Linked DNA regions of Homo sapiens. The protein of the gene in region 2 interacts with the protein of the main gene of each other region in a pairwise test. Each region holds a gene or a part of one and is shown on either strand. Other genes may lie near its edges.

The links. The genes of interacting proteins can lie anywhere in the genome.
Region 1: the proteins of UBE2K (region 2) and TRAIP interact in binary tests that used the Homo sapiens proteins (3 or more experiments, as listed by UniProt).
Region 3: the proteins of UBE2K (region 2) and CCNC interact in binary tests that used the Homo sapiens proteins (3 or more experiments, as listed by UniProt).
Region 4: the proteins of UBE2K (region 2) and RNF182 interact in binary tests that used the Homo sapiens proteins (3 or more experiments, as listed by UniProt).

The regions. Positions count from the first base shown.
Region 1 is NC_000003.12:49,846,526-49,850,117, reverse strand, and holds part of TRAIP (E3 ubiquitin-protein ligase TRAIP), read left to right. Parts: intron 1-1,917; coding exon 1,918-1,975; intron 1,976-2,509; coding exon 2,510-2,593; intron 2,594-3,592. UniProt on the Homo sapiens protein: E3 ubiquitin ligase required to protect genome stability in response to replication stress.
Region 2 is NC_000004.12:39,704,636-39,708,227, reverse strand, and holds part of UBE2K (ubiquitin-conjugating enzyme E2 K), read right to left. Parts: intron 1-3,592. UniProt on the Homo sapiens protein: Accepts ubiquitin from the E1 complex and catalyzes its covalent attachment to other proteins. In vitro, in the presence or in the absence of BRCA1-BARD1 E3 ubiquitin-protein ligase complex, catalyzes the synthesis of 'Lys-48'-linked polyubiquitin chains.
Region 3 is NC_000006.12:99,551,622-99,555,213, reverse strand, and holds part of CCNC (cyclin-C), read left to right. Parts: intron 1-1,412; exon of another isoform or gene 1,413-3,318; coding exon 3,319-3,374; exon of another isoform or gene 3,375-3,592. UniProt on the Homo sapiens protein: Component of the Mediator complex, a coactivator involved in regulated gene transcription of nearly all RNA polymerase II-dependent genes.
Region 4 is NC_000006.12:13,927,899-13,931,490, reverse strand, and holds part of RNF182 (E3 ubiquitin-protein ligase RNF182), read right to left. Parts: intron 1-3,592. UniProt on the Homo sapiens protein: E3 ubiquitin-protein ligase that mediates the ubiquitination of ATP6V0C and targets it to degradation via the ubiquitin-proteasome pathway.

The DNA.
Region 1 (3,592 bases), on a different chromosome or scaffold from region 2:
TGTTCTTAGCTGTAGACTCATTTATTCTTGCTGTGTAGTATTCCACTGCGCCTGGTTACTCTTGATTATATGTTGTACATGGTATTTGAAAACTTATGGGAATTTTAGCTGGGCATGGTGGTGCACGCCTGTGGTCCCAGCTACTCGGGAGGCTGAGGTGGGAGGATTGCTCGAGCCTGGGAGGCGAAGGTTGCAGTAAGCCAAGATCACACCACTGCGCTCCAGCCTGGGTGACAGATTGAGACCCCATCTCAAAAAAAAAAAAAAAAAAAAAAAAGAAAAGAAAAGAAAATGTACTTATAGGAATCTTTGAGGCCAGGATGATGGTATCATTTTCCAGAGAGGACTTAGTTTCTCCCTGGTCCCTAGGAGTAGGGGAGTCTACTAGTAGGAGACTAATTAAAGTTTAAGGCTTGAGCTTTGCTGGACCACCTGCATAGATGATGCAAAGCTCAGCTGTGTTTTGCTTTTACCACTACTTACTTTTTTTTTTGAGATGGAGTCTCGCTCTGTCGCCCAGGCTGGAGTGTAGTGGCACAATCTCAGCTCACTGCAATCTCCGCCTCCCAGGTTCACACCATTCTCCTGCCTCAGCCTCCCGAGTAGCTGGGACTACAGGTGCCTGCCACCACGTCCGGCTAATGTTTTGTATTTTTAGTAGAGATGGAGTTTCACCATGTTAGTCAGGATGGTCTCAATCTCCTGACCTTGTGATCTGCCCGCCTCGGCCTCCCAAAGTGCTGGGATTACAGGCGTGAGCCACTGCGCCCGGCCACTCTTTTTTTTTTTTAATTAAAAAAATTTTTTTGATTGGGCACAGTGGCTTATACCAATAGTTCCAGCACTTTGGGAGGCTGAGGTGGGAGGAGCACTTAAGCTCAGGAGTTGAGACCAGCTTGGGCAGCACAGTGAGACCCTGCCTCTATTCTGTAAAAAACAAAAAAACAAAAAATTTAATTTAAAAAAATTTTATGGCTGGGTATGGTGGCTCATACCTGTAATCCCAGCACTTTGGGAGGCTGAGGCAGGTGGATCACTTGAGGTCAGGAGTTCAAGACCAGCCTGGCCAACATGGTGAAACCCTGTCTCTACTAAAAACAAAAATTAGCTGGGCGTGGTCGCGCATGCCTGTAATCCCAGCTACCTGGGAGGCTGAGGTAGGAGAATCGTTTGAACCAAGGAGGCGGAGTTTGCAGTGAACCAAGATCGTGCCACTGCACTCCAGCCTGGGCGACAGAGCAAGACTCCACCTCAAAAAAAAAAAAAAAGTTATGAGTACATAGTAGGTATACATATTTATTGGGTTTATGAGATATTTTGATGCAGGGATACACTGTAATAATCACTTCAGGGTAAACAGAGTAGCCATCACCTCAAGCATTTATCATTTTTTTGTGTTACAAACATTCCTATTCTTTTAGTTACTTTAAAATGTACAGTAGATTATTGTTGACTGTAGTCACTCTGTTGTGCTATCAAATACTAGATTTTATTCCTTATATCTAACTTTATTTTTGTACCCTTACTTACTTTTATTTCTGGTTGATCCTTACCTTGAAAGTGTAGTCTTTGGGATTCCAGCTTAAAATGGGGGTGTTATCAGAGTCCTCATCTCTGAGGGCCCCTGAGCTTCGACTATCATCTCTCCCAACCCCAGTCAAAGCCCAGAATGTTGCCTAAAGGACAGCTTTTGGCCAAGCCAACAGGGCCAAAAAAAGGGCCAGCTGGTTGGAGTCCTGAGTACCCATCAGGCCTTGCGGGAGGTGCTGTAACTGCCTATGCTACTGTCCTCTTATTTGGGCAGGCATTGGGTCAAGGAGGAGCAGAACAGACCCTTTCGTGGTCAGAATGTTTGCCTGGCTTATGTCCCCAGACAAACCAGGGCTCATCAGTCTATTGTTCTGCTTTTCATTCCAGCCTAATTCAGTGGTTTGAGACAGCACCAAGTCGGACCTGCCCACAGTGCCGAATCCAGGTGAGAGTATTGGGGTGGGACCACCTCAACTGAAGAGATCTCCTTAGCAGAGAGCAGGAATGTGAAAAGAGCTCTGAAACTGCAATATCTCTGACCTTTTTTGGACCCTCCTGGTTTAAGGCCAGTTGAGCCTCACTTGTGCCCTTGAGTGTTTGGGAGGTCTGCTTACACCCACAGGTAGCTGGCAGATGGACTTGTTGCCTGGGCCAGTTTTCACTTGGGTAGATTTGGCTGGCCTCCTTCCCTGTCTTTTCATCAGTGACTCCGCACCTAGAGTTCAGGTATCTTTTGAGCACTTAACCGTGTAGGTCTGTAGTAATATGACTTCAGTGACCACGAAACCAGCAGCCCCAACTTGGGGTACCTGCAGGAGTAAAGAGGTCTTTTGACTCTAAAGGATGTACTTTGAAAAATTAGGTCTGAGAACAGGCCTGACATGCATGTCAGGCAGGTAGTCAGACCCATGTACAACACTCTCCTCCTTGCGCATGACCCAGCTACACAATCATACTCTTACCTTGTTCTCCCATCCAGGTTGGCAAAAGAACCATTATCAATAAGCTCTTCTTTGATCTTGCCCAGGAGGAGGAGAATGTCTTGGATGCAGAATTCTTAAAGGTACCCAGAATTTATCTGATTCTACTGAACTCCAAGCCTTGTGCGAGTTCACTTTTCTTTTTTCTTTTCTTTTCTTTTTTCTCTTCTCTTCTCTTCTCTTCTCTTTTCTCTTTTCTTTTCTTTTCTTTTCTTTTCTTTTTTTAGAGACAGGGTCTTACTTTGTTGCCCACACTGGAGTGCAGTGGTGCAATCATAGCTCACTATAACCTCAAACTCCTGAGTTCAAGGGATCTCCCCACCTCAGCCTACCTAGTAGCTAGGACTGTAGGGGTGCACCACCATGCTCGGTTAATTTTTTTATTTTATTTATTTATTTATTTATTTATTTATTTATTTATTTATTTTGAGATGAAGTCTCACTCTGTCACCCAGGCTGGAGTGTAGTGGCGTGATCTTGGCTCACTGCAACCTCTGCCTCCTAGGTTAAAACAATTCTCCTGCTTCAGCCTCCCGAGTAGCTGGGACTACAGGCACGTGCCACCATACCCGGCTAGTTTTGTGTTTTTAGTACAGACGGGGTTTCACCTTGTTGGCCAGGCTGGTCTCGAACTCCTGACCTGAAGTGATCCACCCACCTCGGCCTCCCAAAGTGCTGAGATTGCAGGCGTGGGCCACCGTGCCCAGCCCTAATTTATAAAAAAAAATTTTTATAGAGATAGGGCCTTGCTATGTTACCCAGGCTGGTCTTGAACTCTTGGGCTCGAGCAATCCTCCCACCTTGGCCTCCCAAAGGGCTGAGATTACAGGCATGAGCCACTGTGCCTGGCCTGGGAGTTCACTTTCTATTTCCACATAAGTGGAGGGTTCCTGGAATATGGAGATGAAGTTATAGAGGTGAGACTTGGTACAGTTTTCAAGGTGGGGACACAAAAATCAGAGGACAACTGATGAGACACAGTCATCAGAGAAATGCACTGTGAGGGAAGAGGGGAGCTGCTTGACTGTAAACCCTCCCTTTGGGATTTCAGGTCAATTCCAACCTGAATTCTCTCCTGCGGT
Region 2 (3,592 bases):
AAGAAAAGTTCATTTACTTAAGAATCTCGGCCAGGCGCGGTGGCTCACGCCTGCAATCCCAGCACTTCGGGAGGCCAAGGCTGGCAGATCACCTGAGTCCCGGAGTTCGAGACCAGCCTGACTGACCACCATGGAGAAACCCGGTCTCTACTAAAAATACAAAATTAGCTGAGCGTGGTGGTGCATGCCTGTAATCCCAGCTTCTCGGGAGACTGAGGCAGGAGAATCGCTTGAACCCGGGAGGCAGAGGTTGCAATGAGCTGAGATTGTGCCACTGCACTCCAGCCTGGGCAACAAGAGCAAAACTGTCTCAGAAAAAAAAAATTGCAATATTACCAGAATTCCTTTGGGACTGTCTCCTGAAATTTGAGGTCAGTCTTAACTTTCCTCTAGAACTCAGCTCAAGAAGGCTGGGTGAGGTGGCTCATGCCTATAATCCCAGCACTTTGGGAGGCTGAGGCAGGAGGACTGCTTGAAGCCAGGAGTTCAAGACCAACCTGGGCAACACAATGAGACCCCATCTCTACAAAAAATAAAAATTAGCCAGGTGTGGTGGCACACACCTGTAGTCCCAGCTACTCGGGAGGCTGAGGTGGAAGGCCTGCTAGAACCCAGGAGGTCAAGGCTGCAATGAGCTATGATTGTGCCCCTGGGCGACAGAGTGAGACCCCATCTCAAAAAAAAAAAAAAGGCACCTAGCTCAAGAACCTCCCTCATACAGTCATACAGGCCAGGCACGACGGCTCATGCCTGTAATCCCAGCACTTTGAGAAGCCAAGGCAGGCGGATCACCTGAGGTCTGAAGTTCGAGACCAGCCTGGCTAGAAACCCCATCTCTACTAAAAATAGGAAAATTAGCTGGGTATGGTGGCATGCGCCTGTAATCCCAGCTACTGGGTCAAGCAGGAGAACTGCCTGACCTGGGAAGCAGAAGCTGCAGTGAGCCAAGATCATGTCACCGCACTCCAGCCTGGGTGAGAGAGTGAGATTCCATCTCAAACAAAACAAAACAAAAAAACTCCAGGTGGGGTGGCTCACACATGTAAGCCCAGCACTTTGGGAGGCCAAGACAGCCAGATCACCTGAGGTCAGGAGTGTGAGACCAGCCTGGTCAACATGGTGAAATCCAGTCTCTACTAAAAATACAAAAAAAATTAGCCGGGTGTGGTGGCGCATGCCTGTAATTCCAGCCATTCTGGAGGCTGAGGCCTGAGAATCACTTGAAGCCAGGAGGCGGAGGCTGCAGTGAGCCGAGATAAAGCCACTGCACTCCAGGCTGGGTGACAGAGACTCTGACTCAAAACAAAACAAAAACAAAAAAGAACCTCCCTCATTCAAATACCCTCAGAATCCCATAGCATTTACACTTTGCCCCTCCCATTTTTATCTATCCTTTGTCCTGTATCTCCAACCAATTAAGCCTTTTGGGGCTGTGGTCAACATGTTCGGTAACTGTTAATAATGTATTCACTGGGAAATAAGAGTATATAGTCTTGGCTGGGCATTGTGGCTCACACTTGTAATCTTATCACTTTGGGAGACCAGCCTGGCCAACATCATAAAACCCTGTCTCTACTAACAATATAAAAAATTGGCTGGGCGGTGGGGCGCGCCTGTAATCCCAGCTACTTGGTAGGCTGAGGCAGGAGAACCGCTTGACCTGGGAGGTGGTGGCTGCAGTGAGCTTGGATCATGCTACTGGACTCCAGCCAGGGTGACACAGTGAGATTCCATCTGGGAAAAAAAAAAAAAAAAAGTCCAGGCATGCCAGGCATGGTGGCTCACCATTTAAGCCAAGCACTTTGGGAGGCCCAGGCAGGCAGATCATCTGAGGCCGCGAGTTTAAGACCAGCCTGGCCAATACAATGAAACCCTGTCTCTACTAAAACTACAAAAATTAGCTGGGTATTGTGGCCGGACAGGGTGGTTCACACCTGTAATCCCAGCACTTTGGGAGGCCAAGGCAGGCAGATCACGAGGTCAGGAGATCGAGACCATCCTGACTAACACGGTGAAACCCCGTCTCTACTAAAAAAAAAATACAAAAAATTAGCTGGGAGTGGTCGTGGACGCCTGTAGTCCCAGCTACTCAGGAGGCTGAGGCAGGAGAATGGCATGAACCTGAGAGGCGGAGCTTGCAGTGAGCTGAGATAGCGCCACTGCACTCCAGCCTAGGTGACAGAGCGAGACTCCGTCTCAAAAAAGAAAATTAGCTGGGCATGGTGGCGCATGCCTGTAATCCCGGGATCCCAGCCATTCCAGAGGCTGAGGTATTGGTTGAACCTGGGAGGCGGAGGTTGCAGTGAGCTGAGATCGCGCCACTGCACTCCAGCCTGGGTGACAAAGCGAGACTCCGTCTCAAAAAAAAAAATTAGCTGGGCGTGGTGGCGCATGCCTGTAATCCCGGGATCCCAGCCATTCCAGAGGCTGAGGTATTGGTTGAACCTGGGAGGCGGAGGTTGCAGTGAGCTGAGATGGAGCCACTGCACTCCAGGCTGGGTGATAGAGCCGAGACTCTGTCACAAAAACAAAACAAAACAACAACAAAAAGGAATCTCTCTCATGCAGATACCCTTTAGAATCCCATAGCATTTACTCTTTGCCCCCACCATTTTTATCTATCCTTTGTCTGCCCTGTATCTCTAACCAGTTAAGCCTTTTGGGGCTATAGTCAATATTTTCAATAACTGTCAATAATGTATTCACGGGAAATAAGAGTATATAGTCTTGGCTGGGCACGGTGGCTCACGCCTGTAATCCCAGCACTTTGGGAGGCCAAGGCAGTTGGATCACTTGAGGTCAGGGGTTCGAGACCAGCCTGGCCAACATGGTAAAACCCTGTCTCTACTAACAATACAAAATATTAGCTGGGCGTGGTGGGGTGCGCCTGTAATACCAGCTACTCAGGAGGCTGAGGCACGAGAGTCGCTTGAACCCGGGAGGCAGAGGCTGTGGTGAGTTGAGATCGTGCCACCATACTCCAGCCTGGACAACAGAGCAAGACTCTGTCTCCCAAAAAAAAAAAAAAAAAAACCCAGGTGCAGTGGCTCATGCCTGCAATCCCAGCACTTTGGGAGGCCGAGGCGGCAGATCACAAGGTCAGGAGCTCGAGACCAGCCTGGCCAATACGGTAAAAACCCGTCTCTACTAAAAATACAAAAACAAAAACAAAAAAAAACAAAAAAAAACATTAGCCATGCATGCTGGCACATGCCTGTAATCCCAGCTACTCAGGAGGCTGAGACAGGAGAATTGCTTGAACCCGGGAGGCGGAGGTTGCGGTGAGCCGAGATGGCGCATTGCACTCCAGCCTGGGCGACAGAGGGAGACTCCGTCTAAAAAAAAAAAAAAAAAAAAAGGTGTATAGTCTTTAAGAAGGGGTGACAGGCCAAGCATGGTGGCTCACGTCTGTAATCCCAGCACTTCAGGTGGCCAAGGCCGGAGGATCACTTCAGTCCAGGAGTTCGAGACCAGCCTGGGCAACATGGTGAAACCCCGTCTCTACAAAAAATTACATAAATTAGCTGGGCATGGTGGCAGACGCCTTTAGTCCCTGCTACTTGGAAGGCTGAGGTAGGAGGATCATCTAAGC
Region 3 (3,592 bases), on a different chromosome or scaffold from region 2:
TAGCTTTGGAAATGATTAAGAGTGTAAGAGTAAAGGCAAAAGGAACTACACATAAGCACTGTACTCTAGTTGATAAAGTTATTACCCATGGGTGTACAAGTTAACAATTCTGATAATGCTATACATGTATATGGGAATTAAACAATTACGTAAATCAATAGCAAATGTTTGAGAGCCGGGTTTCTCATTGTTGGAGCGGGAATTTACAGATAAGCAAAGGGCTGGAAACAGCATGAACTCGTGTACCTTAATACAATATAGATGGTTAGTTACATATAGAAATATTTATAGATAAGTGTATATACATGGGTTAGTGTGTGTATTTCTTGGCTTTCTCAGCTGAAAGGGTCTATAAGCAATGACATCCCAGTAGCAATGAGCTCACCTAGTACCCATATCTTGGTTTCTAATATCATTCTCCAATAAAAGGTACCAGGGCTCCTTGGAGAAATGGTTGATTCTAGGACTGGGGCAAGAAATACACAAGATGGACCTGGACCATCTCTTAATGCCAGTAATAAAGAAGTATTCAAAACAAACAAGAAAAACAAAAACGTCTATTGATGAGGATATGTCAAAAGGATATAGGAGCTAACTAAGAGAGCTCCCACTGACCAAAGCTGAAAGAATTTGAGCATCAAAATTTTAAAAATAGCATTGGATAATAACTCAAAGTATAAACTAAATATCCATGAGTCCATACTGATATAAATAAATGAGGGAGAAGAGACATGTCTTCCATGCTGAAGAATTCCAAATAATATATGTAACTATTCTGCCCTCAAGTAGAGGGAGCATAACTCCCCACTCCTAAGGTGCTGGCTATACATGTTAACTTCCTGCTAGTGTGTACATATGGAAAGGGAGGAAAAAGGTAACTTTACAGTGGGGAAACCTGAGAAATACTGCCTTAGCCAGGCGATCAAGGTCAGTAGCAACAGTGATAAATCACATTAATATCATGTATCATTGATGTGATATGATGAAGATGGTACTTTATCTCGGTGGTCTTCCTGTCAAAAACCCATTTTCTCTAGTCTAATGAGAAAAACATCAGACAAATTCCAGTAGAGGGGCATTTGACAAAATACTTGACTGGTACTCCTAAAAACTGTCAAAGTCATCAAAAACAAGGAAAGGCTAGAAAACTGTCACAGCCAAACAGTCTAAGGAAACATGACAAATAAATATAATGTGGTATCCTAGATAAGACCCTAGGATAGAAAAAGGACATTGGTACAAACTAAGGAGATCTGAAAAAAGTACAGTTTAGTTAATAATAACATTTCAATATTGGGTCAGTAATTGTAACAAATGCGCCATACTAATGTAAGATGTTAATAGTAGGGGAAGCTGGGTGAAGGCATGTCTTAGTCCACTTGGGCTAATATAAGAAAGTACCATAGACTGGGTGGCTTTCACAACAGACATTTATTTCTCACAGTTCTGGAGGCTGGGAAGTCAATAACGGTGGGTATAAGAGAACTGTGCATGATCTCAGTGTTTGAGTCTACAAAAATAAAAGGCAGAGGAATATAATTAGGTAGAGTTTGTTTTGCTTTTTTCAAGGGAAATTTGAGCATATTAGTATGTGATGGAAGATTTACTGAAGGAGGAAGGTTAAAGATGAAAAAAATAGCAGGAGTTATCAATTGAATAGATGATAATAAGTGTATAAGTGGTAAGACAAACAATAGAGAGGAGGGATGTATTTTTCTCCAAGTTGGAGGAAAAGGATTAAAAGACAGAAAAAAATGCAGAGCAGTTTTAGCATGGAGTAACAGACATGTGACAGTATCAGGTAAATATATTCTCAATAGAGGTGTTAGGTGTCAAGGTCCAGGGGATGGGGATGTAGATTTGTTTTATATACAGAGATAATTTTACTTTGTTGATTGTCTACCATTATATAAGAACCTGTTGTGCTGGTATACTTTACATCACAAGGATTTGTAAAACTCAGAAACCTTAATAGGTACGTCTTAAATTTAAATAAAGGAGAGAAGAAAGGAAAGATTATAAATTTACTAATGTCAAGTTTAAATTATTCTAGGTTTCAAATCCTGGCAGATATTACACATCTAAATTAGCTGTAGGGCACTGAATTTGCAAAACAAATCTTTTTGAAAACATAGTGCATAGAAGAAATGGAATTTCTTTCTTTTTTTTTTTTTGAGATGGAGTCTCACTGTCACCCAGACTGGAGTGCAGTGGTGTGTTCTCAGCTCACTGCACCCTCTGCCTCCCGGGTTCAAGGGATTCTCCTGCCTCGGCCTCCCGAGTAGCCGGGACTACAGGTGCATGCCACTACACTCGCCTAATTTTTGTATTTTTAGTAGAGATGGGGTTTCACCATGTTGTCCAGGAGGTCTCGAACTCCTGACCTCAGGTGATCCACCCACCTTGGCCTCCCAAAGTGCTGGGATTACAGGCATGAGCCACTGTGCCTGGCCAGAAATGGAATTTCTTTTAATTTCAGTGAAATCACTTGGGCTTTGTACAAATGGAAGCTGACACTAAACATTTTTTAGGACCTGTCAGTAGTTACTTGGTTGAATTAAATGTGTCATAATGGCTTGAATACAGTTTCTCAAATAGTACTTATGTGTATATGCTCACACCATTTTAAGGAGATGGGGGATTGATGGTTAACATTTTTTTTTCATTTGTACTTTATTTAGTGACTAACCAATAAAGTAATAGATAATAGAGTACTAACTTTATGTGTTACTACTACTACTTTATGAGTAACTCGAGACCTTTGCATATATATTAATGCTTTTATTAAAATATATATTTTGATAAATACCTGGTCATTGTAAAAAGTTTAGAAAGTGCAGATTAGTAAAAAGTTCTTAAATCTCACAAATAACCACTGTTAACATTTTTTTGGTGTACTATCCTCCCAATATTTTATATGTATATTTTTTACCAATTGTATATATTGTAAACACATATGTAACCCCTGTGTTCCTTCTAAGCTCAGTCACTGGAAAACAGAAGAATACCATTCTGTAGCTGAAAAGATTTTAGAAATGATAAAAGCCAGTGATTTTTTTTTCCTGATCTTTTTCTTTTTTAAACATCAGAATCCTTTCTTAAGGTAGTAAATATAAAATTGAAGCTGTGTAGAGTGTCCTGCCCCCCAGTCTTTCCCCTTCCCTGAAAGTAAATAAAAATCTGCGTCCGTAAGTGTTGCCAAGAATTCCTACTGAAAATAATTTTGCTCTACCCTCTAATATTCTGCTCTGTTAAAGGAATTTTGAGTTAATTTATTTCCCATTTTCTCAGTTTAAATTTTTTTTTTATTTTCTGCAGTAAAAACTAGATTTTCATATGCCTTTCCAAAGGAATTTCCTTATAGGATGAATCATGTAAGTATATGATATAAAATGGAACAATTATCAAAGCTATATATAAACTAGCTCTATTTTATATTAGACTAAATTTAATAGTTTCCTAGAAATGGCAGTTTCAAATATTACATAAATACAGACATTATTCTAAATTAAAGCTAAATAGCTTTTACCATTTAAAAAAAATACTTCATAGTGGCGATTATCAACCCTGGCTGCTCATTAAATCACCTTGG
Region 4 (3,592 bases), on a different chromosome or scaffold from region 2:
TGACCCAAATGAAAACATCTTTCCAAACTTCTAACTTCATCCCTGATACCACACTCCAGACCTTCGGCATCCTAAAACAAGGAAATCTCCCACTGTAGCAAAAAGCATGTTGCTCTGACCCTGAGGGAATTTAGCCTGGGGGATATGACATTTATTGAGTTACTTTTCATTTCATTTCATCCTATACCACTCATGTAGCCCTTGTCCTTGTTCATTTCCAATCCAGAACACAGTATAAAACAAAACACAAATTCAGGAGACAGAAAATAACTCCATTTAATTTTGGTTTTTGTTCCAAAAATAGACTTGAGGATAGGGGTTCTCTGTCTCTTTCTACTCTAAAAGCCCATCTGAGGTCTGCAGCAATAACTGTGAACAACGATGTCTTTTTCTTGGCTACCTCCTGAGAACTACCTCCTCCTTCTCAGCCAGCCATACCTGCCACTCTGAATTTGCTCCACCAGGCAGTCCTCAACTGCCACTCTTTCCAAAGTAACATAATCCCAAAAGCATCTTCACTGCAGCAGAAAGGCATTTTTTGTCTGCTGGTAATTAACAAAGCAATCATAGTCAAATTCAGATTGTGGTTTATCCACACAAATCATGTTTTTAAATCTACCAACTCTGTACAATCTTGGATAAGCTATTTATTAGCCTTTTATAGATGAGGAAACAAGAATTATGGTGACAATCAAAAGAGACAGCTTGTGTGGAATACTTAATAGCGTACCTGGCACCAAGTAAATGCTTAATAAATGGTAGTTATTACAATATTTACTATTAAAAGAACCTACAGAACTATGTTTACTCACTTGCTTTTATGAACACCTGTCTCTTATTTAGTCCTACTTTTCACATAGCTTAAATAAGCTCCTGAAATTAAAATGCTTAATCATTCTTCTATGGAGACAGTAAGAACATGTGTTATTTCAGAGGAGGGACATGCAGAGTTCTACTGGGAGGGAGTGAGAAGGGAGTATCACTTAGTCCTTAGCACATGTAAGAGGTAGCCTAGGAAAGAGCAGGTGAGCCCAGGTTGAGGATAACCCCGTGAGGCAATGCAAATGGATCAACATTTCCAAGATAGATTTACATGTATATAGCAAGGCCAATACCACAGAAAATATGTAGTCACCCCTCAATATCTGCAGGGGGGCTGGCTCCAGGACCCCCAAGGATACCAAAATCTGAGGATGCTCAAGTCCCTGGTATAACATGGCATAGTATTTGCATATAACCTATGTACATCCTGCCATGTACTTTAAATCATCTGTAGATTGCTTATAATACCTAATACAATGTAAATACCATGTAAATAGTTCTTAGACTGGGTTTCTTATTTGAATTATTTTTTGGAATATTTTCCAAATATTTTTCCAAATATTTCCAATCCATAATTGATAGAATCTGCAGATGTGGAACCTGCAGATATGCAAGGCTGACTATATTCTTTTAATATATGAATACGAATAATAAATTAAGGAACAACTACCTTTGGAAAACATCTTTTTCATAAATTATTCTAGTTTCTATGTACAGAAAAGAATACTGGTACATGTCACAATATGCTATGAAGAAATGCTTCTTGTTTTATGACTTTAGGTTTTGTTTCTTTTTAGCAAAAAGAGAAAATAAGATGGGGGAGGAAAGCCCAAGCATAATAATTAGTGTCATTATTTCTACACTTAGTAGATATCAGTAAACAGAAAATAAAGCTTGCTGCATTCCTTGACATAAAGCCAGGATTCTGGTATATTTTGTGTACCTTTGGGTTAACGTAACAGAAAGTGATCATATTAGTTTCCTCACTCATAAAAAAGGGATAATAGTACCTACTTCAAAGGGTTGTTGTGAGGATTAAATGAGTTGATATTTCTGAAGTGCTTAGAAAAGTGTCTGGCCCATAGGGAAGAATTCATAAAGGTTTGATTGACAGAGAAGAGCTGGAAGTCAAAATTACTGCAATCAGACTAAACAAGTTCTCAGTAAACCAATATACAGGAAGAAAAAAGGCCAGAGAAGACCACACAGAAACCTTTTATTGTAGATTTAAAATTCAAGAGTTTGAATAAACAACAATTCTTCAGTATAACTGTGCCCAACACATCACATGGTGATCAAATTATGTAAAACACCATGTCTGCCTTGAATGACTATAGCTATAGAAGAGGGAAGATGATTCACAACAGACTGATCAGAAACACAACTTCTCACTCAAATACAATATGTTGGCCAAACACACAGTTTTATTTTATAGTTCCATTGCCATCTTGATTATCTAAATCATGTACCTGACCAATTAGATAACATTTCTCATGTGGAAAAATTTTATTATTGGGCCTTAATTTGTGGTTTACAATGCTTAAAGTGCACTTAAACCACAATTCAAGAGAGTCACGTTTTAGTTAATTGGGAGGAAAAATGGAGGCAAGTGACCAGGACCAGCACCAGCAACTCTTTTGTAGGACTAGCCAGCCTCTGGAAATGGTCACTAGGTAAAGACCTCAGGTAATCTGCTTTAGAGTCTGGACCATAAAGTGTTAAAAGAGATTATTAGAGCCATCACTGTCCCCCAGCTTCCTGCCCCAGACTCCCTGACCCTGCCCTCCCAACCACCACCACCGCACCCCCACCCCTGCACCACCTTTGGCCACTATGCCAGCAGACTCTCAGTATGTATTGATCTCTTTAACACCTTTTAACTCACTGCTGCCTCTACCTCCTAGTTCTTTGGTTTTCACTTCAACCGATTATAAGATACAGAAGCAAGGATCAAGTTCAAAACATGTATGGAAATAAGCAATCACCTAACAGGATCCCAGATTCTACTATCCAACAAACCATGTCTATAAATACTCAAAATGCAAAATATAAAGATTATAATGTGTTTTTTATGCCCACTATTTTCTGATCAAATTACAAATTAACCAAATCATTTTTAAAATAAGCTCTGGAAATATAAAACTTTTTAAAAAAACATTACAAAATTAACTGGTAACTTTTGAAAAAAGGAAGGCTGAAAACAAAGGAGAGTATTTGGGTATCATACATTAAGAATTACATATAAAATAAATAATCCTAATAGCTGAGAAACAAGTAAGTCCCCAACTATAAGAGGTTGGTTGACTTTCATCAAGCAACATAGAATATATAGAAGGAAGCATTTGATAAACATTTGATGACTGATGTCCAAAACCATACTCCATAACTGCTACAAAAAATTGGCACATCAGGAAAACAATCGTTTATCTTGAACTATGTTTATATCACTTAAATTATGTACAATACTGTATAAAAGTATACATTTTCCCCAAGCACTTGTGGCTTACCAAACAGCTTAAGACATCTTATCTCCATTTTAATTGAAAACATGAAAAATGAAACACACGTCCACAAAAGTTTTTCAGCTTCTATCAATCACTATTAATAATCCATGTCACTAAACACCACAACCTATCACCATGACCATGTGTCTCCTGTGCCTTTTCTCAGCACAGTAGTTCTGACAAATACCCACTGTGCACAGCAGGTCAGTTAACAATACCTGATATTTACAGCATTTTGTCTTGAGGTCTCAGGGCCACACTATTCT